7 linked regions of the Homo sapiens genome follow. The protein of the gene in region 1 purifies or fractionates together with the protein of each later gene. This does not show direct contact. Each region holds a gene or a part of one and is shown in the gene's direction. Other genes may lie near its edges.

The links.
Region 2: the proteins of COBLL1 (region 1) and CDADC1 purify together in Homo sapiens (affinity purification with mass spectrometry, with the first as the bait; one large-scale study listed by BioGRID). This does not show direct contact.
Region 3: the proteins of COBLL1 (region 1) and AMOTL1 purify together in Homo sapiens (affinity purification with mass spectrometry, with the first as the bait; one large-scale study listed by BioGRID). This does not show direct contact.
Region 4: the proteins of COBLL1 (region 1) and WDR11 fractionate together in Homo sapiens (co-fractionation; one large-scale study listed by BioGRID). This does not show direct contact.
Region 5: the proteins of COBLL1 (region 1) and NUP93 fractionate together in Homo sapiens (co-fractionation; one large-scale study listed by BioGRID). This does not show direct contact.
Region 6: the proteins of COBLL1 (region 1) and HMBOX1 purify together in Homo sapiens (affinity purification with mass spectrometry, with the first as the bait; one large-scale study listed by BioGRID). This does not show direct contact.
Region 7: the proteins of COBLL1 (region 1) and BLTP3B purify together in Homo sapiens (affinity purification with mass spectrometry, with the first as the bait; one large-scale study listed by BioGRID). This does not show direct contact.

The regions. Positions count from the first base shown.
Region 1 is NC_000002.12:164,835,324-164,838,823, reverse strand, and holds part of COBLL1 (cordon-bleu protein-like 1), read left to right. Parts: intron 1-3,500.
Region 2 is NC_000013.11:49,271,925-49,275,424, forward strand, and holds part of CDADC1 (cytidine and dCMP deaminase domain-containing protein 1), read left to right. Parts: intron 1-2,366; coding exon 2,367-2,416; intron 2,417-3,500. UniProt on the Homo sapiens protein: Catalyzes the deamination of cytidine and deoxycytidine into uridine and deoxyuridine, respectively. May play an important role in testicular development and spermatogenesis.
Region 3 is NC_000011.10:94,862,356-94,865,855, forward strand, and holds part of AMOTL1 (angiomotin-like protein 1), read left to right. Parts: intron 1-2,379; coding exon 2,380-2,505; intron 2,506-3,500. UniProt on the Homo sapiens protein: Inhibits the Wnt/beta-catenin signaling pathway, probably by recruiting CTNNB1 to recycling endosomes and hence preventing its translocation to the nucleus.
Region 4 is NC_000010.11:120,885,862-120,889,361, forward strand, and holds part of WDR11 (WD repeat-containing protein 11), read left to right. Parts: coding exon 1-77; intron 78-827; coding exon 828-975; intron 976-3,216; coding exon 3,217-3,323; intron 3,324-3,500. UniProt on the Homo sapiens protein: Involved in the Hedgehog (Hh) signaling pathway, is essential for normal ciliogenesis.
Region 5 is NC_000016.10:56,736,629-56,740,128, forward strand, and holds part of NUP93 (nuclear pore complex protein Nup93), read left to right. Parts: intron 1-3,500. UniProt on the Homo sapiens protein: Plays a role in the nuclear pore complex (NPC) assembly and/or maintenance. May anchor nucleoporins, but not NUP153 and TPR, to the NPC. During renal development, regulates podocyte migration and proliferation through SMAD4 signaling.
Region 6 is NC_000008.11:28,896,895-28,900,394, forward strand, and holds part of HMBOX1 (homeobox-containing protein 1), read left to right. Parts: intron 1-3,500. UniProt on the Homo sapiens protein: Binds directly to 5'-TTAGGG-3' repeats in telomeric DNA. Associates with the telomerase complex at sites of active telomere processing and positively regulates telomere elongation.
Region 7 is NC_000012.12:100,087,375-100,090,874, reverse strand, and holds part of BLTP3B (bridge-like lipid transfer protein family member 3B), read left to right. Parts: intron 1-1,779; coding exon 1,780-1,960; intron 1,961-3,500. UniProt on the Homo sapiens protein: Tube-forming lipid transport protein which mediates the transfer of lipids between membranes at organelle contact sites. Required for retrograde traffic of vesicle clusters in the early endocytic pathway to the Golgi complex.

The DNA.
Region 1 (3,500 bases):
TGACTAATTATATCATAACTCATTACTTTAATAGACAATGAAGCCTAGTTTAGTCTTTATCCTTGGATATTACTGTTGGAAAGAATTCCTCTGTAATTTTCCAAGTTTTACATTGTTGTAACATGTCATTTTAACATAGCACCAAGTTTTGTTCTCCACATTTTATAAATGAGAATCTGAAGCTCAGAAACACTGAGTGTGTTGAAGTCCCAGCAAATTAGTAGTAAAACCAGAAGAAAAACTCCAAGTGCCTAGTTCATTTTGTTAATTGCTTTTTATCTTTTCTTGACCATGGTATGATATAACATACCATGACGTTATACATTTTAACGGATAACTTATATTTAACCATTAACTCTGTAATATTTTAATACATTTCAGGAAAAATGTAGTTGATATCCTTATCTTCACTTTTATTAATTCTATGATAAATTAGCCCATTCAGGGAATGAGTATTTTAGGAAAATAAAATTGTTTTATGGCCTCTCAGCTGCTGCTTTTTCTTTGAAACATTCTAAATAATAATTGTAACATCAAAAGGGATAGTTTGAAGTTTGTTTGGTGCCTTCACACATTTAACTCGCATTTAGCATTCTACGACATTGTGAATTATATGGGTTGGGTGTCATTTTCTTTTCAGTGGAAGCAATGGTGTGCAGAAATAGTGGCTGCCGTAGGGTCTGTGCTGGTGAAGTCCCTGCCTTAAAAGGGTCTGATCCTGTGGTCATCTTGAATGTCTTTCATTTTGGCCTCTACTGTACTGCTTTAATCCCTTACCATTCTAGATTAGATCCCTTTCTTTTGAGACAGGCTGGAGTCTTGCTATGTTGCCCAGGCTGACCTTGACCTCTTGGGCCCAAGTGATCCTCCCACCTCAGCCTCCTGCATGGCCGAGACTACAGTCACAAGCCACTGTGCCTGGCTTTAGATCACTTTCTTAGTAACATGCAGAAGTATCCACTTTATATTTGTTGTTCTGTATCTTATGGGCTTCTTTTTGGAATTCGTTATGAGGTTAAGAGTTTAGATATCAAAAGACATTGAGTCACAACAGTTTCGGTTTTCCTTCGAGAAAAAAGATTGCATGCAACTTTATATATATTCAAATGTAATATGTACATTCATATATAATTACATATTTTATGTATACTATACATATACATACATATATACTCCTATCTAATTCATGTATATATGTTTTCATATGTATGTGAAAGTTGACTGGTTTAACTTACATAGTGATCTAGATGAAAAATGATAAATCATTTTTATATTTGTTTCTATGAAGTGGAAATCCTAGGTTGGTTTGCGTTTTTTTTTTGCAGAGAGCAAAAATGTTGGAGACACTGGTTGGAAAATTGAAATGCTGCATTGGAGAAGAGAGCGATAGTCAAAAGTAATTTCCTTCTCTAACGTGGATATCCAATTAGTAAATTTATTTAAGTTTTCTATATTAGTACTTAGTAAAGTGACATTAATCACTTAGAAAAAGCAACATGATTGCTGACATCAACTTGGGTGCTTATCTTTGGAACTAGTGCTTATGTTCTTTACTTGCCCAGATATGCTTTAAAAAAAAAAATCCTTCGAAATTTAAATGTCAAAAGCTTAATTGACCTTGCTCTGAGGGATCTTAATATTTTGATTCTGAAGCACATTTTCAGGAATGTACAGAGGGGACAAAAGCTCTCTTTATCATTTTGCAGCTTTGGAGCTATGGAGTTAATTGAAGGCATACGAAAAATTAAAGAATGATTTAACAGCTGCTTTCTTAAGCTTTTGTTGAGGAGTGTTATTGGTTCTAAAGTTTCACTGATTGTATGAACTGAGTTCTTGAATACTTGAAGTTGAGTGACTTCTCTGAGGTTTCAACATGGGAGTCATCTGGGATACTTTCACACGAATTCTTGGGCTCTCATGCCCCCACCCATTCTGATTTTAATTCTCTTGGTCTGGGACCAGGGGATGGCTAGTTTTAAAATGCTGCTCAGGTGATTGTAGTGTGTGACCAGATTTGAGAATCATTGATTAAGTAGATATCAATAGCTGACATGGAGCTGATGCAAAAAAGAGAATAGAGGCTGTTACTAATCATTTATAGGGAACTCAAGATTGTAACTTTAGCATTATTTTGCCTTTTGAAAGATTCCATGTAGCTGCTTTGCAATATTATTTTTAAAGCTTTTGCTACTTCTTTTTGAATAAGTATATTAACTTCATTTTACAATGAATGAAACTGAGGATCAGAGAGCTTAATTAACACATTGAAGGTCATACAACTCTAAGGAATGGAAGAGTATTAGAAACAAGCTCTGATTCCAAACCTATGCTTTTCATAGTGCTATGTTTGCTACCATGGATTATACTGAATGGCTAAAAATGATTTTTATTTAAAGTGGCCTTATAAAAGCATTATCTTGATTCTTTTTAAAATTATGTTTACATTTTATATTTAAAAACTATAAATTTCAATGCATATAAAATGTCTAGCATTTAAAAGGAGATTAATTATTTGGCTTATGTCTTCAAAGTAATGTGTAACATATTCCTGTGTATGGTATGATGTAATTTAACTCATAGTAAACTGGCAGTTTTTTTCATCATATGACAAAGTCTATACTTATTTTTTGATATTAGGCAGCTATTAAATGTATAACAATATTTCAAAAGTAGGATTTTTGATTACTGAATAACAAAAATGAAATTATTTATTAAAAATGCTATACTTGCCCTTCAAAATCAATTACCTCTACATGAGTTAGAGGATATTGAATAACAATATTATGACCTTATATTTGTACTGAAACGCCAGATGTGTTAATATAATAATAAATGCCAAACTTCATGTTATTAAGACAACTACTTTTAATTAATCAGTCAAAAACTCCTGAACTCTTACTTTATATAAAACATATTTTTCTAGGTACTGGGAAATAGGCTTCTAATCTTAAGAACTTCACTACAGAAATTATATGTATCTGTAGGAATAAAATGAACATGATGTTAGTGTATAAATGGTACTTTGTTACTGGCTTAAAACATTATGTCTATGCTTAGAATTTAAAATGCAACAGCCTAACTTATGGGTCAGCAAACTATGTCCTGAAAGTCAAAACAGCCCTCTACCTGCTTTTTTATCCCCCTTTTTCTCCATTGTGGTAAAATATGCATAGCATAAAATTTACCATCTTAGCCATTTTTAACTGCATGGTTCAGTGGTGTTAAGCACATTCATATTGTTGAACCATCACCACCTTCCATCATTATAACTCCTTCCATCTGGCAAAACTGAAACCCTATACCCATTAAACAATAACTTCCCCATTCCACTTTCTCCAGCCCCTGAAAACCACCATTCTACTTTGTCTCTGATTTTGACTACTCTAGGTACCTCTTACAAGTGAGATCAAAGTCTGTCTTTTTTTGACTGGCTTATTTCACATAATGTCATACATGTTGTAGTATATATCAGTACTTTATTGCTTTTTATAGCTGAATAA
Region 2 (3,500 bases), on another chromosome or scaffold:
ATGCTGAGTGACATCAAATCTGTTTTATATGGATGAAAATTTATTCCTATTTTAAAAGACAAGTAGTAAAGAATATTCTCTTGATGTAACCAACCTTAGCTAGGCAGCAGAGCTGCATGCTGATGGAAAAATCACATTTTTTTTTTCCTCCTAACAAGGTTTAGTCTGTCCCCAGGCTGAAACAGAAAAAGTGGCTTCTGTGACTAAGAAACATAACATTAAAAATATGCAGTGTTGATGGTAGAAAAGGGGGCTTTTAATATGGAGAATTTTTATTCTGGTTTTTTATTTTTTCATTTTAGATTTATGCATAAATTAAATAAAACTTTAAAGATTTTGGTTTTGCAGGCAAATATAATCTTATGTTTATAACTTCTGCCACTTACCTTAGAAATGAGCATAAAGCCATTGATTTGTATTCTTGCCCACTCATGTTAAACTCTAAAGGTCTAGGAAGGAACCCAATTTTGTTTACACCAAAATCCCTTTTCCCTCTACTCTGTAGAAGGAAGTCATCTCGTGCACTCTGCTGTTCAGCCTCATTTATTTCCTTCAGAGCACAGCACATAAAGTACTGTTTGTTTCCTTGTTGCTGTTCTCCTTCACCATCCAACTGTAAGTCGTATGAGGAAGGGACTACAGTTTCCCTCACCACTGCATCCTCAGTTCTCACAGTACTTGGAACATAAGAGGCATTCAATAAATGGAAATTTTTGTCAAGGATTTCTTTTTCTTTTTTTTTTTTTTTTTTGAGATGGAGTTCTGCTCTGTCCCCCAGGCTGGAGTGAAGTGGTACGATCTCAACTCACTGCAACCTCCGCCTCCCAGGTTTAAGCAATTCTCCTGCCTCAGCCTCCCAGGTAGCTGGGATTACAGGCATGCACCACCACACCTGGCTAATTTTTGTATTTTTAGTAGAGACGGGGTTTCACCATGTTGGCCAGGCTGTGTCAAGGAATTCTTTATGTCACGGTGCAAGGTGGAGGAAAGGCCAAGCAGGTTGGATCTGGAGGGCTAAGTTTTAGTCTATTTCTTTGCCTGTTTCTGCATCTAGAAATGGAAATTTTATCTGCTTTACCTTTAGGGTAAAAATGAGATCATGAATAAACATGTTTAACATAAATTATACAAATGCTTTGTGGTATAATTTTGAAAACCAGGGTTTGCTTGAATTTGAGATGGGAAATTTTATTAGAGTATCATAACTGTTTTAAAGTTAACCTCTTAATAAGACATTCATTCTAGTTTTTAATGCAATTGTGGCACAAATTTTCTTTGTACCTTTACTGGAAAGTAGGTATTTAAAAATGTTATCATTGGAGGGATTCACTTTTAGGAAATTGTAGGGTGAAACCACGGTTTCAGTTAATCCTCCCCAAAATGAAAATGCCTTAGGGTAAGTTCACAGATAATTGTTATTTTCTACGTGTAAATGTGCCACTTAACTACCTTAGTCCCTTATTAAGATTTTGATAAATACTATGGTTTTCATAATTAGTGTAATTTGTCTTAGAAATTTGAAACTCAACATTGTATAGAAGGAAAAAGTAAATCCTTAATATGTAGAATTTCTATTTTGTTTTTTAATTTTCTGTTTCAGATTAATGGTTTTAAGAAGTACAGCTTTACTTTTGCAAAGGTTTTGGTTCTACAGGGAAATTATAATCTTATGTTTGTTTATAACTTCTGCTATTTGATTTAGAAATGGGCAAGATGTCATTAACTTGCATTCTTTTTCCCTCAAGGTAAACTGAAGGTCAAAGAAAGGACAACATTTTGTTTAAATCAGAATTCTCTTCATGTACTTTCTAGCAATAGATAGATAGATCCATAAAGATTTGTTTATGTTCGTATGAGAAGTTTGAACTTTTTTCTTAGCAAGAACATTTTCATAAGATATATTTTCCATGATTAGAGTATAAATAATGCTGGGAAAAGACAAATTTGGTTGTTGTGAACAGTTATTACACAAAATCCATTAGTTCTGAAACCTTTATTAAATTTTATCACCTATCAGAAGTAGTTGTTTAGAAACCGGCTTGTTAATGGAGAATCAATGAAGTTGCACTTAGTTCTGGCTACAGCTTTGAGGGACCTGACTGTGGACACTGCCATTTAGTGGCCTCCACATACGTATGTGTGACTGAGTTGGTAGTGACTCTCTCTAGTTATTTGGTACCTAGCTCCCATATTCCATACTTAAAAGTGTTTATTTTAATACTTTTCTGTAATTAGTGAAGATACAAGGATTGCTGCTACATTTATGAAGTATGTTTCAATACAAGTTTTTATTACTTTTGGAAAAATATATTTCTAAAACTAACATATCATAATTTTTACTGAGTTAAATGCCATATATCTTTCAGAGGATCATAAAACAGGAGTTGGGGCAGTCATTTGGGCAGAAGGGAAATCTGTAAGTATGAAAACAATTCTTTAAATATTTAACCTGGATTTTGTTTAAACATAGTTCAGTCTTCGGTGCATTACAGGTTACTGACTGCCAAGGCGGGCAGATCACAAGGTCAGGAGATTGAGACCATCCTGGCTAACACAATGAAACCCCATCTCTACTAAAAAAAAAAAAAATACAAAAATTAGCTGGGCGTGGTGGCGGGTGCCTGTAGTCCCAGCTACTCGGGAGGCTGAGACAGGAGAATGGTGTGAACCCGGGAGGCCGAGCTTGCTGTGAGCAGAGATCGTGCCACTGCACTCCAGCCTGGGTGACAGAGCGAGACTCCGTCTCAAAAAAAAAAAAATATTAATATTTTTGTAATGGTGCATTTATGAAGATCTATAAAGATTTGCTCATCCCTCAACAGTTTTCTAGATAGACGCATTCATTCAGCAAACATTTGTTAAACACTCTCTACAGGTTAGGCACTGTGCCACAGTGAATGCTGGGGATTAAAGATCACATTTTATGGCCTCATAGTTTAGTGATGGAGATGTAGAAGTAAAATATAACTGATATGTAAGTGTAATTATAACTGATATCATGAGAACATAGAGGAGGAACCTTTGCTTGGAAAAATAAGTAAATACTGTTGGTGAATATTATTAATGTTACTAATATAATATTCTTGAAGAATAAGATAATTTCTTCAGACAGAGCAAGTCAATAGGACCAGGAGGATAACATGAATATTCTTGGTGAACATTCTTTTTTTTTTTTTTTTGAGACAGAGTCCCCCTCTGTCACCCAGGCTGGAGTGCAGTGGTGCAATCTTGGCTCACTGCAACCTCTGCCTCCTGGATTCAAGTGATTCTCATGCCTCAGCCTCTTGAATAGCTGGGACTATAGGCATGTACCACCACACCTGGCTCATTTTTGTATTTTTAGTAGAGATGGGATTTTGCCATGTTGACCAGGCTGGTCTTGAACTCCTGGCCTCAAGCAGTCCACCCTCTTCTGCCTCCCAAAGTGCTGGGATCACAGGTGTGAGCCACCATGCCTGCCCTGAATATTCTTAATATTAATATTAATAATGTTAAAATTC
Region 3 (3,500 bases), on another chromosome or scaffold:
TATTGACTAGGTGCTAAATGGCCACAGTCAAATTGGTAAAAATGACTATTTCCAGCCATTAGTTTTGTGACTTTTCAACCACAGATGCATGCTTTATATTTATAATCAATGATTTTTAAACAAAGAAAATAACTTCTGTAAACCAACTGGTTTTCCCATCTTTATGCATCTTGATGGTGTTGGTCAGAATTTTTAGAGAGTCAGCTTATCTTTTATGTGTGCAGAAGGTTTTGAAAATTTTTAAAAATTTCAAAGCAATGTAATATTTCTTTCAGAGTTTTATATATTTACTATCTAAGTTGCTTTCCTCTAATTGTGTTTGCTCTCCTTACTTGGCAATGTAAACATGAATTTTCAGATTTGTTTCCAGCTCCATGTAAAGTCTCCAAAAGTAAATTTGTTGAAAATGTTTCTAGCCACTAATTTCTATATTGATGATTTTGTGCACCATAGTGTGAATTTATAATTTTGCAAATATGTTTAAAGCATTTTGTTTGCTTTCTACATCATTTGGCCTTTAGTGTATTTTCAATGACACTTTGCACTTTTCTGAGCCACATTCTCACATATGCCCTCTGGTTTGTTTTTATCTTTACTCATCTTTGCTGAGACCTTCTTCTTAAAGACATATGAAACTTGCAGGAGTATAGAGCGATGGTTAGGGGCATGGACTTTGGAGTCATAAATACCTGAGTTAGAATCCATTTTCACTATTCACTAACTGAGTATTCTTGGAAATGTCACCTAACCCTGGTTTCTTCATCTAGAAATTGAGGATAATAATACCTTGTGCACAAGTTGTGAGAACTAAATGAGAGACCATGTGTACCGTGCCCTACCCAGTCCCTGTATGAAGTAAATGCTCATTAATGTTGATAGCTGTCATTAAAGGGGCCTCTATTTTTCTGTTTTGGGCTATTCTGTAAAAAAAAAAAAAAAAGCTTTAAAGTTTTCAGGCGGGGCGCGGTGGCTCACGTCTGTAATCCCAGCACTCTGGGAGGCTGAGGCGGGTGAATCACCTGAGGTCAGGAGTTTGAGACCAGCCTGACCAACGTGGTGAAACACCATTTCTACTAAAAATACAAAATTAGCCAGATGTGGTGACGCATGTCTGTAATCCCAGCTACTTGGAAGGCTGAGACAAGAGAATCGCTTGAACTCAGGAGGTGGAGGTTGCAGTGAGCTGAGATCACGCCACTGCACTCCAGTCTGGGCAACAAGAATGAAACTCCATCTCAAAAAAAAAAAAGTTTTTCAGTATGATTGTACATTGGAATATGAAGTTAAAAGATGTGAAATACTTGGCTACATCATGTCTTACTAATTAAATACTCATGTAGTCAGAGCCATTATTGTGCCTTTCATCTTGAGCTATATCACTTAGATGATGCAGTGATCTTATTTTTACTAATCATTGTTAGTTAGTAGTAATTAAATTGTCAAAACCAGTGGCAGGAATAGTTATCTGTGACTGGTTGTTTATAGTCAGACAGATGCTTGCAGTGAAACTGCTTCTTGATCTTCTCGTGTCTGCCCTTGCCCTCACTGCACCCACCTCACCTGAACTTGTCAAGGACAGTGTCTGCCTTCTTCTTTCTGTCCTGGACCCTGGCATGCCTATTACATTGTCCTGACCTGCATCCCAGGCAGGGCCCATAAAACAAGAAGTGAGACAGAATACAACATGAAGGAAGACTTCAGCTTGGAGCCTCACTCTCTGAGAGGACCAGTCTCAGTTTTAAGTATTTACTGAGCCCCCATTTTACTGTAAAATACTGAAGTAGGCATTCTATGCTGTATGGATGATAAACAGAAATAAAACCTAAACTCTGATTGGAAAAGTGAGGTATAGGACAAGCATGAAAAAGTACAAGCATGGAAACACCAACAAATACAATAATAATAATAATAATAATAATAATAGTGTCCATAAGTCAGTAGATTAAATCTCTAGGTGCCCATTTTACATATTCATAACATGCCATGTAGCTACATACATAATGTAGTCAGAAGGGGGAGGGGACTTGATTTTTGAATTTTATTTTGTTTTCCTTAGATGCTGCTTAATTCTATCTAGTTAAGGAAGAGAATTGGACAGAATTCAGGAGAGGAAAAGTGGGTGAAGGAGTTTGTGGAGTTTTAGCACGGCACCCTGTGATCACCTCTCCACAAGCATTTACACCTTTCTCTGTATGGGCATCAGATGAGATTGATAACTGAGCTGGGGAAATTGGGAGGGAAAGGCTTCATGAGCCAATGCGAGATGCAGAGCTGATCTCTGTTCCAGCATGAACACCAGCCTCTCCATTCTGTGTCTGTTTGCATTGAGACAAAGCAAGAAGGTTTCCTATGATCAAACGCATATCCTTGTGTTGCCAGGGACACCACGATCATCAACCACTCACGGAATGGCAGCTACGGAGAGAGCTCGCTGGAGGCCCACATCTGGCAAGAGGAGGAGGAGGTGGTGCAGGCCAACAGAAGGTGTCAGGACATGGAATACACGTAAGGGACGACTATGTGTGACGTGTGGGGCCCGCTGCATTCACACTCCAGGCCTTCCAGAACAGATTGCTTCTCTGTCCTGTTCTGAAAGGCTGTGAGCATGAGGTCTCCAAAAACTCTCCTCCCCCATGCTGTGCCATGGAGAGAAGGAAAAGGTTCCAACCTAAGCACGTGGTTCCACTCAGCAATGGATCTGGTGCCGGAGTTCTCTGGGGGAAATTGCGTGTCACCTGCCGGTTTTAAGATGCAGGCTGAGTCTAGTGACAGAAGAATTTAGATGTCTGTGTTATTTCTTGGTGTCTATCTCTATGACATTATGAGCTGAAAGGGGGAAACATTATATCCCAAAGATTCAGAGTTTTTGAGCCAGAATTTATATATTCCAGTCCAAAATAAAGAACATATTTAGCTAATGCACTCTTCTGATGGGCTACACAAAATTTCCAGCAGACTTTTTGACATAATAAAACTAGCCTGTCCCCCTTCACTACCTAAGGGCTTGTGGAACCCTGGGAGCCCTAGGCCTCTTATTTTGCAGATGTGAAAATAGGGCTGAGTAGTTGAGCCATTGATAGATAGGCTCAGTGAGTTACTATCAAAGTTGTGAAAATAACTCAGCATTCTTCCAGAAAAATCATCTTCTACCAGAGAACCTGTTCATCTTGGTTCTTTTTTCTTAGAAAATAGAGAAATTGACTTTAGCTGAAAGCTCACCCTGTTTGAGGCTTTAGAGTTTTTATGCTTCCCTATCCCCTACCTACCCCCGGCCCCCACCGCCAATGCTAGACCCTCTAAATATGGTCCCCAGCCGACTTCGGTCCAGGAATGTGGCCACGGTCATTCTAACTGTACCTCGCTGAAGTCCCAGTCTCCCAAGGTGCCAGAGAAGGTGTACTCTTTTGACATATGACAAAAGACCTGTCTTAACAATTTGGAGATTATCAACATTTGAAGACTCGTACTGTGCTTCATCCTGTATCCCTAAATTACAATTA
Region 4 (3,500 bases), on another chromosome or scaffold:
GCAACTCGAGAGGCCATGGCCCGCCAGACCGTAGTCTCAGACACAGAGCTGAGTATTGTTGAATCATCTGTGATCAGGTACAGTACAGTGTTTCTTGACACTGTCATTTGTGCCATTAGCATCATGTCTGGGAAGTTGACAAGTATCATCGGAAGGTGTCTATGGTAGCAAGTTGGACTCTGCTTTTGAACATACTTAGTTTCATCTTTCAGTACATACCCAGATTACTAAAAAGATAATTTTATCATTTTTAGTATTGTACTATACTGTTTGTTATAACTAATAACATATGCAGTAATATTCACCCATCAGCATCTAGTAGTAAATGTGCTCATTCCGAGTGCCCTTCTACTCCATACACTTCAGCTTCTGAAATTCAAATGAACATAGCATAGACATACAGATAGATCATATTATCATTTATACACACCAAAGAAAATGTGTTGGGAATCCTAAATTTGTGTATCATCCCCATCCATACCAATCTTACAGATAAAAGGCTTCAGAGATAATGTTGGGTCACTGTACAGCCTCCCTTCTGTTGAGCACAGTTCTATAGCCAAAATCTCTATGAATTTTATTTTTCTTGTGTTAAGTTTAGATCACCATTTCTCTCTGTGCAGGGTAAACTTCCTCTGATGTTGTGGCTGTTAAGGAGTGATTCATGTTTACCCATAATTAGCTGGGCAAATATTAGTTTCAGACTTTTAAAAAAATAGTTTTGGACCTCCTCTTAATGCGTCTGTACTTTGGGCAAGTTAATTAATTATGAGTATCACTCTAGGGGAAAAAAAAACATCTTTATCATATGTTTCACTATCCCAAAGCTTGCTGCAGGAGGCAGAAAGTAAATCTGAACTTAGTCAGAACATCTCTGCCCGGGAACATTTTGTATTTACCGATATTGATGGCCAAGTGTATCATCTCACTGTTGAAGGAAACTCAGTAAAAGACAGTGCTCGGATTCCACCAGATGTGAGTACAACCTTGATTAAATCTTCATCAAGAAGATTTTGTTTTGTTGGTTCCATATCCAGTGAAGGCATAGTTAAGTTGGAAACTTCAGAAAAGCCTAATGTAAATAAACTTTATTTAAGGAGATATTATCGATTAAACTTGTTCCATACTGCTAGAGAATAACGCTGTAACTATTTTGATTAAATGTTTACTGTGTGCTACTCATTTTTATCCCTGTAATAATCCATGAGGAGTTATCTCCATTTTACCCATAACAAAACTGTGGGAGAATAAGTAACTTTCCCAAAGTTATCCAGCTTACTCATATGGCAGAGCAGTGTTTTAAACTCAGGCCTGTCTGACTTCAGTATCTGTCTTCTTTCCATTTCAGGCATTACCCTGAAGGATTTGACTTACAATCTAGTATTATTTTTGGATAATAGTAATCAGGTTGTAAGTGTAATAGTATTATTAACATTTACTAACTTACATATATTCTTATGGCCTTGTGGAATCTGTAACTAAAGTTTTGCCATTAATCATTTGTGTCAGCATGCATCTCATAGATAGTTTTTAATAGATGGATCATGAAAATGTTTATGTTAATTAATGCAGGCTATTATAATGGTTAAATGAAGGCATGAGGGGATTTTTTAAAATAGGTATATTTATTTTAAATTGCTATCTAAAAATGGAATGCTCTAGTAGAATGCCAACCCCCATAATTTTATAGGTGGCTTTGGGGTCTCATAAAGTTACAATCTAGATGTTGGCTGTGGCTACAGTCTTTTGAAGTGTAATGGGACAGAAGGATCTATTTCCAAGTTGGCTGCCTCACAGGCTATTGCACATTAATGCTGGCTGTTGACGAGGGACCTTAGTTCTTCATGTCGATCTTTCCATAAGGCTGCTTGAGTGTCCTCACGACATGACAACTGGCCTCCCCTAGAGTAAGTGATCTGATAAAGCAAGAAGGAAGTTGCAGAGTCTATTATGACCTGGTTTCAGAAGTCTCTTCAAAGGCAACTTCTTAATTAAACATTCTATTTTATGGCTAGGAAAGTAGATATCTTAAAATGTTGCTTCATATTATATACAGAATTTCATTTCTTTAATATTTTTTTTTATTAATGGACTTTATTATAATATTGATTTTTAAATCCAGTTTTTGTTTTGTTTCTTGACTATTACCAGAGTTTTTACGGTATTCAGTGTGTGTGCTAGTCCACTAATGGTCAATTATTCAAACCACTAGAGTTTTCTTACTTTTTACCATGGATACCATTTGAATTTTTATGTTGTACAATAAATGCAAAAATAAAATTTCTTTTAATAAATAGAGAAGTAATTGAGCAGTAATATTATTTAATAGCTAACATGTATTGACTATTTACTGCATGGCAGGCATTGCTTTAAGGCCTTTGCCTTTATAAATTTATTAATACTAGCAACAACTCAAGTTTCATGAACTTACCCTACTTTATGGACAATAAATCCAAGACAGAAAGGTTAAGTAAACATGCCTCAAATCACATACCAGTTTCAAGCTGGGATTCAAGCCCAGGCAGTGTGACTGCAGAGCCCAGGCTGCTGAGCCCTCCATGATACCACCTCTGAGCATCTATTAGAACTGCAAGTTCCTTTCTTCCTCCAAGTTAGATTGACTACAGCAGCATTTCATTCTTATGTTGTGCTTCTATATGTAACTTCTGAGCAAAGCTTTCTGTGAATTTAAACTGCATATGCCTTTAGTAAACAGCATCTCTTCACCTTCATGATTCCACAATGTTCCAAAACGTGTCAGTGAAGCTCTGGATCCTTTTTTCAATAGAAAAATCACGGCACAATTAGTTATAAAAGAGCTTTAAGTTTCCCTTGGAATGGATTTAGTTATCCTTTTGCAGTGAGAGATAAGTTTGAGTTGGCTCTCTGGAAAACCTTCCCTTTACTTCTCTGTTTTTCTTACTTTAATTTCCCCCTTTTTTTTTTGAGGTATTTGTTCCTCAAAAGACATCCCCTCTCTTTAAATCTAGTTCCAGTAACTACTTAATGTCTATGAAGTTGAAATCTCCTATTTCTTCATAGTTGAAATTGATAGGCAATGTAGCTCTTTGTTAGTGTCTAAAGTCTGTTTTAGGATTTGATGACTAAAAGCATACTAAAGCACAGCCCTTTAAATTAAGTTTTATTAAAATATTTATTATAATGTCTTATACAGCATAGTGAAATTTATATTTGTTTGTTGCTGTTGTTTTCTAGGGAAGTATGGGTAGTATTACCTGCATCGCTTGGAAAGGTGATACATTAGTGCTTGGAGATATGGATGGAAATTTAAATTTCTGGGACTTGAAAGGCAGAGTATCCAGGTATAAGCCAAGAATGAAATCTTGTTATTTCATTAAAAAAAAGAAATGAAATCTTTTTGTTTTGTTTTGTTGAGATGGTGTCTTGCTCTGTCGCCCAGGCTGGAGTGCAGTGGTGCAATCTCGGCTCACTGCAAGCTCTGACTCCCGGGTTCATGCCATTCTCCTGCCTCAGCCACC
Region 5 (3,500 bases), on another chromosome or scaffold:
GGAGTTGGGGGTGGATAACTGCATTTGGAGACATGGTGGGTGTGACAGTTATGTGCTTGAGAGGAGATGCACCAGTGGTGCCTGGAAACTCACGGTTGGAGTTTGAGTGCACGGGGGCAGGTGTGGATTTGACAGTCATTGCCATTGAGTCTTCAAGGGCAGTGGTGAGACACACACTGTGAAGTAGGGAATTTAGAGCAATATTAAAATTAACAAGTTATTAAAAATTATGTAAGATCACATATACTCATGGAAAAGAATTTGCCCTGACAAGGGAATCAAATGAAAAGTAGAAAAGTCTCCCAACTCTCACCTTGGTAATGCTAGGTTGTTTCTTGCTAAGTCAGTGCTTTGTTTCTTGCTATTCCTTCTAAAAAACTGTGAGTCAACCTTAAGTATACAGCTTAGGGAATTTTTACACATTTATTCACTTATGTGACCACTGTCCATATTGAAATATAAAGCATTTCTGGTACTTTGGTCAGCTCAGATCACCATAATAAAATATCAAAATATCTGTTGTTCTGGCTTAAACAGAAATTTATTTCCTCACAGTTTTGGAGGCTGGAAGTCCGAGATCAGGATGCCAGCATAGTTGGGTTCTGGTGAGGGCCCTCTTCCTCGCTGCTCAGTGTGTAGTCAAGACCTTTCTTTGATGTGTATGTGTGGGGAGAGGTAGGTGGAGGAAAGCAAGCTTTCTGGTGTGTCTAAGGGCACTTATCCCATCCTGAAGACCCCACCCACGTCACCTCATCTGAGTCTAATTACTTCCCAAAGACCCCATCTCCAAATAGCATCACATTGTGGGGTAGGGCTTCAACACAGGAATTCTGAGAGAATACAGTTCAGTCCTTAGTACCCGAAAAGCTCTGCTGTGCTTTCTCCCAATCAGCACTCCCCCTACACTCCCAAGGATAACCAGTATTCTGATCTTTAGTCCCATAGATTCATTTTTTCTGTTTTTAAGATCCATATAAATGGAGTCATACGGTGCTTTTTTTTTTTTCTTTTTGTATCTGGCTTCTTCAGCTCATTGTGATGTCTGTGAAATTCATCCATGTTCTGTGTAGTCTGTAGTTTCTTTTCCATTGCTGTGTGTGGTATACCAAGGTATGAATATACTGCCATAAAAAGCCCAAGTGGGATAATTCTGTAAATGCAATGGTTTTAAAATTATAATGGTAGGGACCCAGACTTTTGTTAGAATCCGCACACCTTCTGCCTCCCAAGTTGTGACAACCAAAAATGTCTCTAGCTATTGCTGAATGTCCCCTGTGGGGCAAAGTTGAGTAGCATTGGTTTAGAGAGAAGAGCCAGAGCCAGAGCCAAAGCCACAGGCCCTTTGGGGCCGACTTGGTGATCTGCCCCTGTTTATGCTAGTTGTAAGACAGAACTAGTATCATTCCTAAGGTTCTCTGTAGAGATAATTTCCATCACCACTAAAATGGGGCTGTTTCCCAGGAAGCATCAAGTAAGTTTAAAGACCGAATTAAAACATCTCACATTTGTAAATTCTTTAAGGTGAGCAGGCCCTTAGAGATCACCTGAGCAACCCCCTCATCCAGAGACGATCCAGCCCCAGGGTCAGAGGGCTGGCGTGGGATGGAGCCAAGCTGTAGTCCACAGCACTTTCTTCCCAGCTGGGCCTTCTGCTGGACAGCCAAGAGTTTATCAGAAAGTTACTATGTGGATAATTTATTTTTCTTTGTGATGCCAGGTTATTACTTCTCTTTGCTCATTGAAGAGGAAATAATACAAGTGATATTTTATGTATCAGGAAAGCTGATACTACCCATTCCTTATTGCAAACATTGAGTCACTGAGGGCAGTACTGCTACTAAATCACCCAAGTCTTTTTCTTCTGTCTAGGTTAATTTATTTTAGGTCTTTGTTTTCTCCAGAACTCTACCTTTTGAATAATGATAAGGTCTCTTTTACTTAGTCTCACAGGGCTGTAAAGAACTTTCCAACAATTTTTTTTTCCCTCTCCTCTCTCTTCCAGAGGCATCTGAAACAATGATGTCTGTCAAGATTTAATTTTTTTGGGGTTGTTGTTGTAATTGACAGCTGACAGATAATAGTAAAAAGTGGAATGATATTGTCATCTAGCTAGTTTATGTATTCAAAAGAGAGGAGAACAGAATCAGTATTAAACTTTTGATACCTTGGGTGGAGGTTTTTCTCATCAATCTTGGATGAGAAAAGAAAGAATCATTCACAAGAATGTTGAACACCATTCTTGTGTTTTACTCCTGTCATAGTCTGATTAATAAGGTTTGAGGGCAGAGTTTCTGCTTAAAATTAAATGCTAAATTTCTTTTTTTTTTTTTTTTGCACCGCCCTTAATCCATTTAATCCTGAGTGGACAACACAGCACATGTTTCAGAGAGCACAGGGTTGGGGGTAAGGTCACAGATCAACAGGATCCCAAGGCAGAGGAATTTTTCTTAGTGCAGAACAAAATGAAAAGTCTCCCATGTCTACTTCTTTCTACACAGACACGGCAACCATCCGATTTCTCAATCTTTTCCCCACCTTTCCCGCCTTTCTATTCCACAAAGCCGCCATTGTCATCCTGGCCCGTTCTCAATGAGCTGTTGGGCACACCTCCCAGACGGGGTGGTGGCCGGGCAGAGGGGCTCCTCACTTCCCAGTAGGGGCGGCCGGGCAGAGGCGCCCCTCACCTCCCGGACGGGGCGGCTGGCCGGGCAGGGGGGCTGACCCCCCCCACCTCCCTCCCGGACGGGGCGGCTGGCCGGGCGGGGGGCTGACCCCCCAACCTCCCTCCCGGACGGGGCGGCTGGCCGGGCAGAGGGGCTCCTCACTTCCCAGTAGGGGCGGCCGGGCAGAGGCACCCCTCACCTCCCGGACGGGGCGGCTGGCCGGGCGGGGGGGCTGACCCCCCCCCACCTCCCTCCCGGACGGGGCGGCTGGCCGGGCGGGGGGCTGACCCCCCCACCTCCCTCCCGGATGGGGCGGCTGGCCGGGCGGGGGGCCGACATCCCCACCTCCCTCCCGGACGGGGCGGCTGGCCGGGCGGAGGGCTGACCCCCCCACCTCCCTCCCGGACGGGGCGGCTGGCCGGGCGGGGGGCCGACCCCCCCACCTCCCTCCCGGACGGGGCGGCTGGCCGGGCAGAGGGGCTCCTCACTTCCCAGTAGGGGCGGCCGGGCAGAGGCGCCCCTCACCTCCCAGACGGGGCGGCTGGCCGGGCGGAGGGCTCACCCCCCGACCTCCCTCCCGGACGGGGCGGCTGGCCAGGCGGGGGGCTGACCCCCCCACCTCCCTCCCGGACGGGGCGGCTGGCCGGGCGGGGGGCCGACCCCCCCCACCTCCCTCCCGGACGGGGCGGCTGGCCGGGCAGAGGGGCTCCTCACTTCCCAGTAGGGGCGGCGGGGCAGAGGCGCCCCTCACCTCCCAGACGGGGCGGCTGGCCGGGCGGAGGGCTCACCCCCCCACCTCCCTCCCGGACGGGGCGGCTGGCCAGGCGGGGGGCTGAC
Region 6 (3,500 bases), on another chromosome or scaffold:
TTAAAAGTTTATTTTTTAGATGAACCTGACATTGCAAACATACCAATTTTTTTTTTTGTTATGAGAATCTGAATATTGGCTAGGTTTTTTTTTTTTTTCTTTTTTTTGAGATGGAGTTTCGCTCTTGTTACCCAGGCTGGAGTACAATGGCGCGATGTCATCTCACCGCAACTTCTGCCACCCAGGTTCAAGTGATTCTCCTGCCTCAGCCTTCCTGAGTAGCTGGGATTATGGGCATGCGCCACCATGCCCGGCTAATTTTGTAGTTTTAATAGAGACGGGGTTTCTCCATGTTGGTCATGCTGGTCTCGAATCCCCCCTCAGGTGATCCACCCGCCTTGGCCTCCCAAAGTGCTGGGATTACAGGCGTAAGCCACTGGTCGGCTAGTTTTTTTTTTTTAAATGAGGAATTATAATATTAGGACCCATTAAAATTTTCTGGTAAAAGTTAACGATAACATTGAAATTGTCCACAAATAAAATGTGTAAGATTTAAATGAGGCTGGGCGTGGTGGCTCATGCCGGTAATCCCGGCACTTTGGGAGGCCAAGGCAGATGGATCATGAGGTCAGGAGTTCAAGACCAGCCTGACCAACATGGTGAAACTTTGCCTCTACTAAAAATACAAAAATATAGCCGGGCGTGGTGGCACACACCTGTACTCCCAGCTACTCAGGAGGCTGAGGCAGGAGAATCACTTGAACCTGGGAGGCGGAGGTTGCAGTGAGCCAAGGTGGCGCCACTGCACACCAGATTGGGCAACAGAGCGAGACTCTATCTCAAACAAACAAACAAAAAAAGATTTAAATTTTAAATAAATTCAAGGCTTACATGGTATGTTTGTTGCTAGAGAGGATATGTTAGAATCTGTGTTAGATAACCAAAATTACAGCTATTTTGACATTAGTTTGGTTTTGACAGTGTTAATGCAAACTTGTCAGATTAATTGATTGTCAGCATATGTCATAGTTTTATTTTGTACTTGTTGCAAGGGAACTAGCTTTAAAGGAAGTTAGTTCAAAGATATTTTCAGAAAAAGGATCTTTACAGAATAAAAGGGGAGGTTATGGTTACTATTTTTGTTAGGTACAAGTTAAAGGATAGTTACAGGGTTGGTTATACTTTGCTGCCCCTTAATCAGCCATATGATTATAAAGCCTGTCTTAAAAGATGAGGCTGTTAATCCAATATACTATCGATTATTACAGACAACAACGGAAGTCTGCTTTAAACAGGCTAACAAAATATTTTCAAATGTATTAACAAATAAAGGTAGATCACCTGATTTTTGTCTTCTCTGGGTTTGAGACAATTTTTCATTTGTCAATACTGTGATAATTTCTATTAAAAAAAGACAAAGTTTAATTTGTTTCATTAGCAGGAATATGACAAATATTGATGGTACTTCCTGATAAATAAGATTCATATTTACAAAGCTTTTTGGCTACCTGTGATTTCAGTTTTTTCCTGGTAGAATTATTTTTTCCTCCTTGGATTTATGTTTCTAGCTTTCTATTTGTCTTGGTGTACGTACTAAAAAATAATGCTTGAATTAGGGATCATTTGGCTTCAAGGACAGGCGTTGTAGGGATTCAGCTGTTTTGGGTTGAAGAAGAGTGACTAGACCTTGTGTGAATGGGAGAAACGTTAGGAATCTGAGAAGCTAGTCTCTCAAGCTCTCGTTCTGGTGATAAATGGTTTCTTGTCTCAGCATCTCCTTCCATGTCTGCTTCATCTCCCTTTCTCACTTCTCCCTTCCAGTTCTGTTTGTATTGCCCTGGTTTTTCATAGTCTCTGCTTCTCTGACTGGTAAGTGGATTTGATTTGCCATGGTGTTGACTTGAACTGTTCTTTCAACTAGAGTTTACCTGTTGATGGTGACAGTGTGTTTCTTTTAGTTCAGTTGGCAAGAGAGAAATCTGAATGCATTGCATGACCACCATGACTTAAATGTCTATCCTTATCCCGTGACCTTGGTGGGAGGTAGCGTGGAAAGCACCTTTTATATGAGGCTTAAGCTTTTAGATGCTTTTTATGAGGAGGGTTCTCTTGTTGGTGTTGAACAAGGCACTCAGTTAAACATGTCAAGTCTAGCAGTGCGTGATGAGGTACTTTGTGGGATACAAAGATAGGTTGGATTTAATCCTTTTCTGCAAGGATCAGTTTGCTGGAAATAGCAAAAGACTCCTATAATTTAAGATTTGCTTTTTATTCTAGTCACCTCAGGCAAACCAGAAAGATGACAAAGTAGGACTATAAGAACTAGCTAGGATTAAGGAAGGAGAATGAGAGGTAGCCCTGGATACATGAACGTACTATCTCTACAGTTTGGATCACTAACCTACTAAGCATGAAAGTATCTAGAAGCCATTGTATCAGGATCCTCATTGCTGCTATCAAAGACTATCCCTTATTGAATAAAGAAGCTCTTATTCATATCAAGTAGACATTCTTTTGTCCCATCATTAAGATCTAGAGACATCTTAGGAGAACTCATTTCATCACTACTCTAGGAACTGGAACATTCTCATAGGCACCCTCTATCTATATAGTGACAACTGTTCTCTTAGCAAATGTCATTCATCCCTGACAAGAAAATTTGTGCCTTCTTTCTTTAGAGACAATAAGCAGGAATTCAAATAGTTGAGTCTGTAGTAGTGAGCATCTTGTTCTCTGCAGATCTGGCAACAAAAGAATTGACATACTGGGTCAATCCAATGTCCAGTCAACACCATAGGTGATATTTAACAAAAGCTCCATGATTTCAGGGAAAGGAACTGGAGCTTTTTATTCCTATGTCAGTATTGGAGTTTATATGGACTTCAGAGCTAAAATTTCCATATCCAAGTCTTTATTATATTACCAAACCAGGGCCAAGATTTTTAGAAATAAGTACAAGTCAAGGATAGGCAACTAAGGAACCTAGAAGATTGGAGTCAGATTACAAAGCCACAGGAGATAAATAGTTGGGGAGTCACAGAGTTCTAAGCACTTAGGCTACAACAGAAGGAAACAGTGATCTCAACTTTTGTGTTGAAGAATTGCCTGGAAAAAGTATTAAAATTTTAGTTTCTGGCTGGGCGCAGTGGCTCACACCTGTAATCCCAGCACTTTGGGAGGCTGAGGTGGGCGGATCATGAGATCAGGAGTTCAAGACCAGCCTGGCCAACATGGTGAAACCCTGTTTCTATTAAAAATACTAAAACATTAGCTGGGCATCATGGCGCGCCTGTAATCCCAGCTACTCGGGAGGCTAAGGCAGGAGAATTGCTTGAACTGGGAACTGGGAGGCAGAGGTTGCAGTGAGCTGAGATTGCGCCACTGCACTCCAGCCTGGGCTACAGAGCAAGATTCCGTCTCAAAAAAAAAAAAAAAAAATATATATATATATATATATTTTGTTTCCTGAGTTCTACCCCCAGATTCCTAAAATCTGAGATGGGCCCAGGAATATATATCCTTCATAAGTATATCAGGTAATTCTAATTGGTATAGTCCTC
Region 7 (3,500 bases), on another chromosome or scaffold:
AGAAAACATAATGAAAGAAGTACCGGAGAGTATTTTAAATAGCACCATCATAGACATAAATACAGTCTTGTTATAGCTTTGAAAATGGGAAAAGCAGGAGAAAAAGTGTTTGATATCAGTTTAACAATTAATTAATAAAAAGTTTTCTGGAGTCTATAGTATTTAACGTTTTACAGCTATATTTCACTTTGTTTCTTTACTTACCTTGGGCTGCAATCATTTTCATGAAGAGATTCTCATTTACTAAGTATACTTTGCAGTTCTTTTACAGTATGATCATAGTTCTTCATAGATGTAATATGTGTAAATATATATACATGCAAAATACATATACTTTGATTTTCTTTAATTATCTTTAGTTAATAACTTGTTCTAAATTTGAACATTGTTAATTTTTAAAGTGGAAAATTTGGTCTTATAATTATTATAAAAATTCATCTACAGTTTTGTGGCTCATATGTCAGATAATCTTACATTATAGTTATGTATACAAAATAATTTTAGGCTATTAGAGGTTCATATTTATTTTTATATATCAACAGGGTTCTATACTATTTCTCTTCAGGGAGAAAAATATTTGAACTCACAACCTATTTATAAATCCTGTCTCCTTTCTGGCTTCTTTAGTTATTCAAGTTCAAAGGACATACCACATCTTTTAGGAGAGGCACCAGAGCACTTAGAGTACTAAATAATATCACAGGGGCTTCTACAAAGATGTGCTTTATTTCTATAGGATATCATATTAGTCCCTTTTCACGCTGCTGATAAAGACATACCCGAGACAGGGCAATCTACTTACAGTTCCATGTGGCTGGGGAAGCCTCGTAATCGTGGTGAAAGGCAAGGAGGATCAAGTCCCATTTTACATGGATGGCAGCAGTCAAAGAAACAATGAGGAAGCTGCAAAAGCAGAAACCCCTGATAAACCATCAGATCTCGTGAGACTTATTTACTACCACCAGAACAGTATGGGGGAAGCCACCCCCATGATTGAATTATCTCCCACCAGGTCTCTCCCACAACACGTGGGAATTGTGGGACTACCATTCAAGATGAGATTTGGGTGGGGACACAGGGCCAAACCATATCAGATATATAACAGTGTATACAGGGCCCACATTTGTTTTGTTTTTAATATATATAATATTCAAATAAACTGCCTTTAAGAGTTAACTACATTTTCTAAAACAAGGGCTATAAATATGTTAAATATAACTTCAGATATTTACTGAGATATATTGGGTTCATATTTGATTTGTGTATAGTTTTACAGTTTTTTTGTTTGTTTTTTTGTTTTTGTTTTTGTTTTTTTGAGATGGAGTCTCGCTCTGTTACCCAGGCTGGAGTGCAGTGGCACGGTCTCAGCTCACTGCAGCCTCTGTCTCCCGGGTTCAAGTGATTCTCCTGCCTCAGCCTCCCAAGTAGCTGGGATTACAGGCATGCGGCACCACGCCCAGCTAATTTTTTATATTTTTAGTAGAAATGGGGTTTCAGCATGTTAGCGAGGCTGGTCTTGAACTCCTGACCTCAGATGATTCGCCTGCCTCGGCCTCCCAAAGTGTTGTGATTACAGGCATGAGCCTAGTTTTACCGTTTTTAAATTTTAGTTTTATTCTTAGGTAATTCAGAAAATATTTTAGGGAAAATATATTATTGATGAAAAATAAGATGTACTATGGTTATTTTTCATGACTTTCGACTGAAAATACTTAGATTTTTGTGTGAAATTTCCAGTATTTAAATTGGCAGTGATAAGGCAGTTTCGAATCTTTTTAGAGCTCTACAGTAGTCGCATCTGCCCAGCAAGTGAAGACAACGCAAACTTCAAATGCTCCTGATGTAAATGATGCAATTGTGAAACTATTCAATGATTTTGATGTTAAGGAAACCTCCCATCATTTAGTGATTTCTCATCTAGATCTACACATATGTGATGACATTCATGCTAAAGAAAAAGGTAAAATAACTTGCTTATTTCAAACTATTTTGGTTTTTCTAGAATTGACTACAAAACTGGATTGTTTATTAAATCTGTTGTGTAGGATGTCCTGTAAGATAATTTGTCATAATTGTGTTCATATGAATATATAGATGAAAGGCACAACTGGAAGCATATATTGGTATGAAATTTTATTTTGCTTTAGCAGTACTTAAGCTTAATTATTTGTTAGCTATCAATGCTAACAATAAAATTAGCTTTAAAAAAATCAGACTGAATAGATGATCCTCTAGGAGGATGATGAAATATTAGACTCGCCTTTGAATTAACTTTTTGATAATGTTGAAATTGTCTCCAAATTAAATTTTAGTCCATACTTAATTCATAATTATTTGTAGATGTGTTTTCAGCATTGCAGTTTTTCTACCTATTTTGAATAGAAGCACAACTGTGCAACTATTTAACATATTTTATGGCCACCTCTCTTCCCATCCTTCCAAAATTTGATTAGGAAGCAAAATTCCAGTTAGGAATTTTCTTTTAGTTTTTGTCCCTGTTATTTTTCCTTATTTAGTAGATGTAGTTCTGTAATCTAGGCGCTGGGCGTTTTTGTTTCTCTGCTGGAGAGCATCCCTGGCCCAGAAGTGTTGGGGTTGAGTTCAGCAGGTAGGCCTACCTTAAGGACTATAATTCTCAAACTTTGGTGAGCATTAGAATCAGGCTGAAGACCTTTAAACAATAGAGTTATCTGATCTCTGTGCCTCAGATCTGAATCAGGATCTATATCTACAAAAATTTTTGCCATGTGTTTTTAAGCTGAGAAAGTGAATATTGAGACCCTGGATACTTAGCAGTAGAAGTTACCCTGCCTTCATTAGACAAGGCAGCCTAAAAGATTCCAGCCTAAAAGGTTGGAGGGGCAAAGGTGAGGAAGATTCGGGGTTTGTGGAGGGATTTGTTATCTTTTGTTCTGACTACCATTGTGTCATTTGACTTATAGTTGGCATCTTTTACTTTAGAGATTTGAAAGGAAAATCCAAAAAAGTTAGAACAAACCAAACTAAGAAAATGAGGTGGTCAAGATTAAGTAGTAAGAATGAGAATGGAGAAAGTGTTTTCTAAGGCCTTACATTCCTCACTATTCCCTGATAGAATAAATTGAATGATTTTATTTAGGAAGAAAACCTTTTCACCAAAATATCTCCTTAATAGTACAGGTCTGTAATCACTATTGTGAAATCCAAAAGGCTCTGAAATATTATAAGTTTGTGAAAAACTCATTTGGTGGCAAAACCTGACTTATGCCAATACTTTTTTTTATTCTTTGCCTGCTTCCTATAAATATTTATGTTTTGCTGCAGAATTGCTATTTTTATTAGTGCTGCCTCAGAACCTGCTGAGAGTGTTGCATGGTATATCCTGTATATACCGTATCATATTACTGTCGTGAAATCTAAACATTTCTGAATTCTGAAACATTTGGCTTTCCAAAGGTTTTACGTAAGGGATTGTAGACCTGTGCTGAAAATTCTACTAGTTGAGATAAATTGGATTTTAC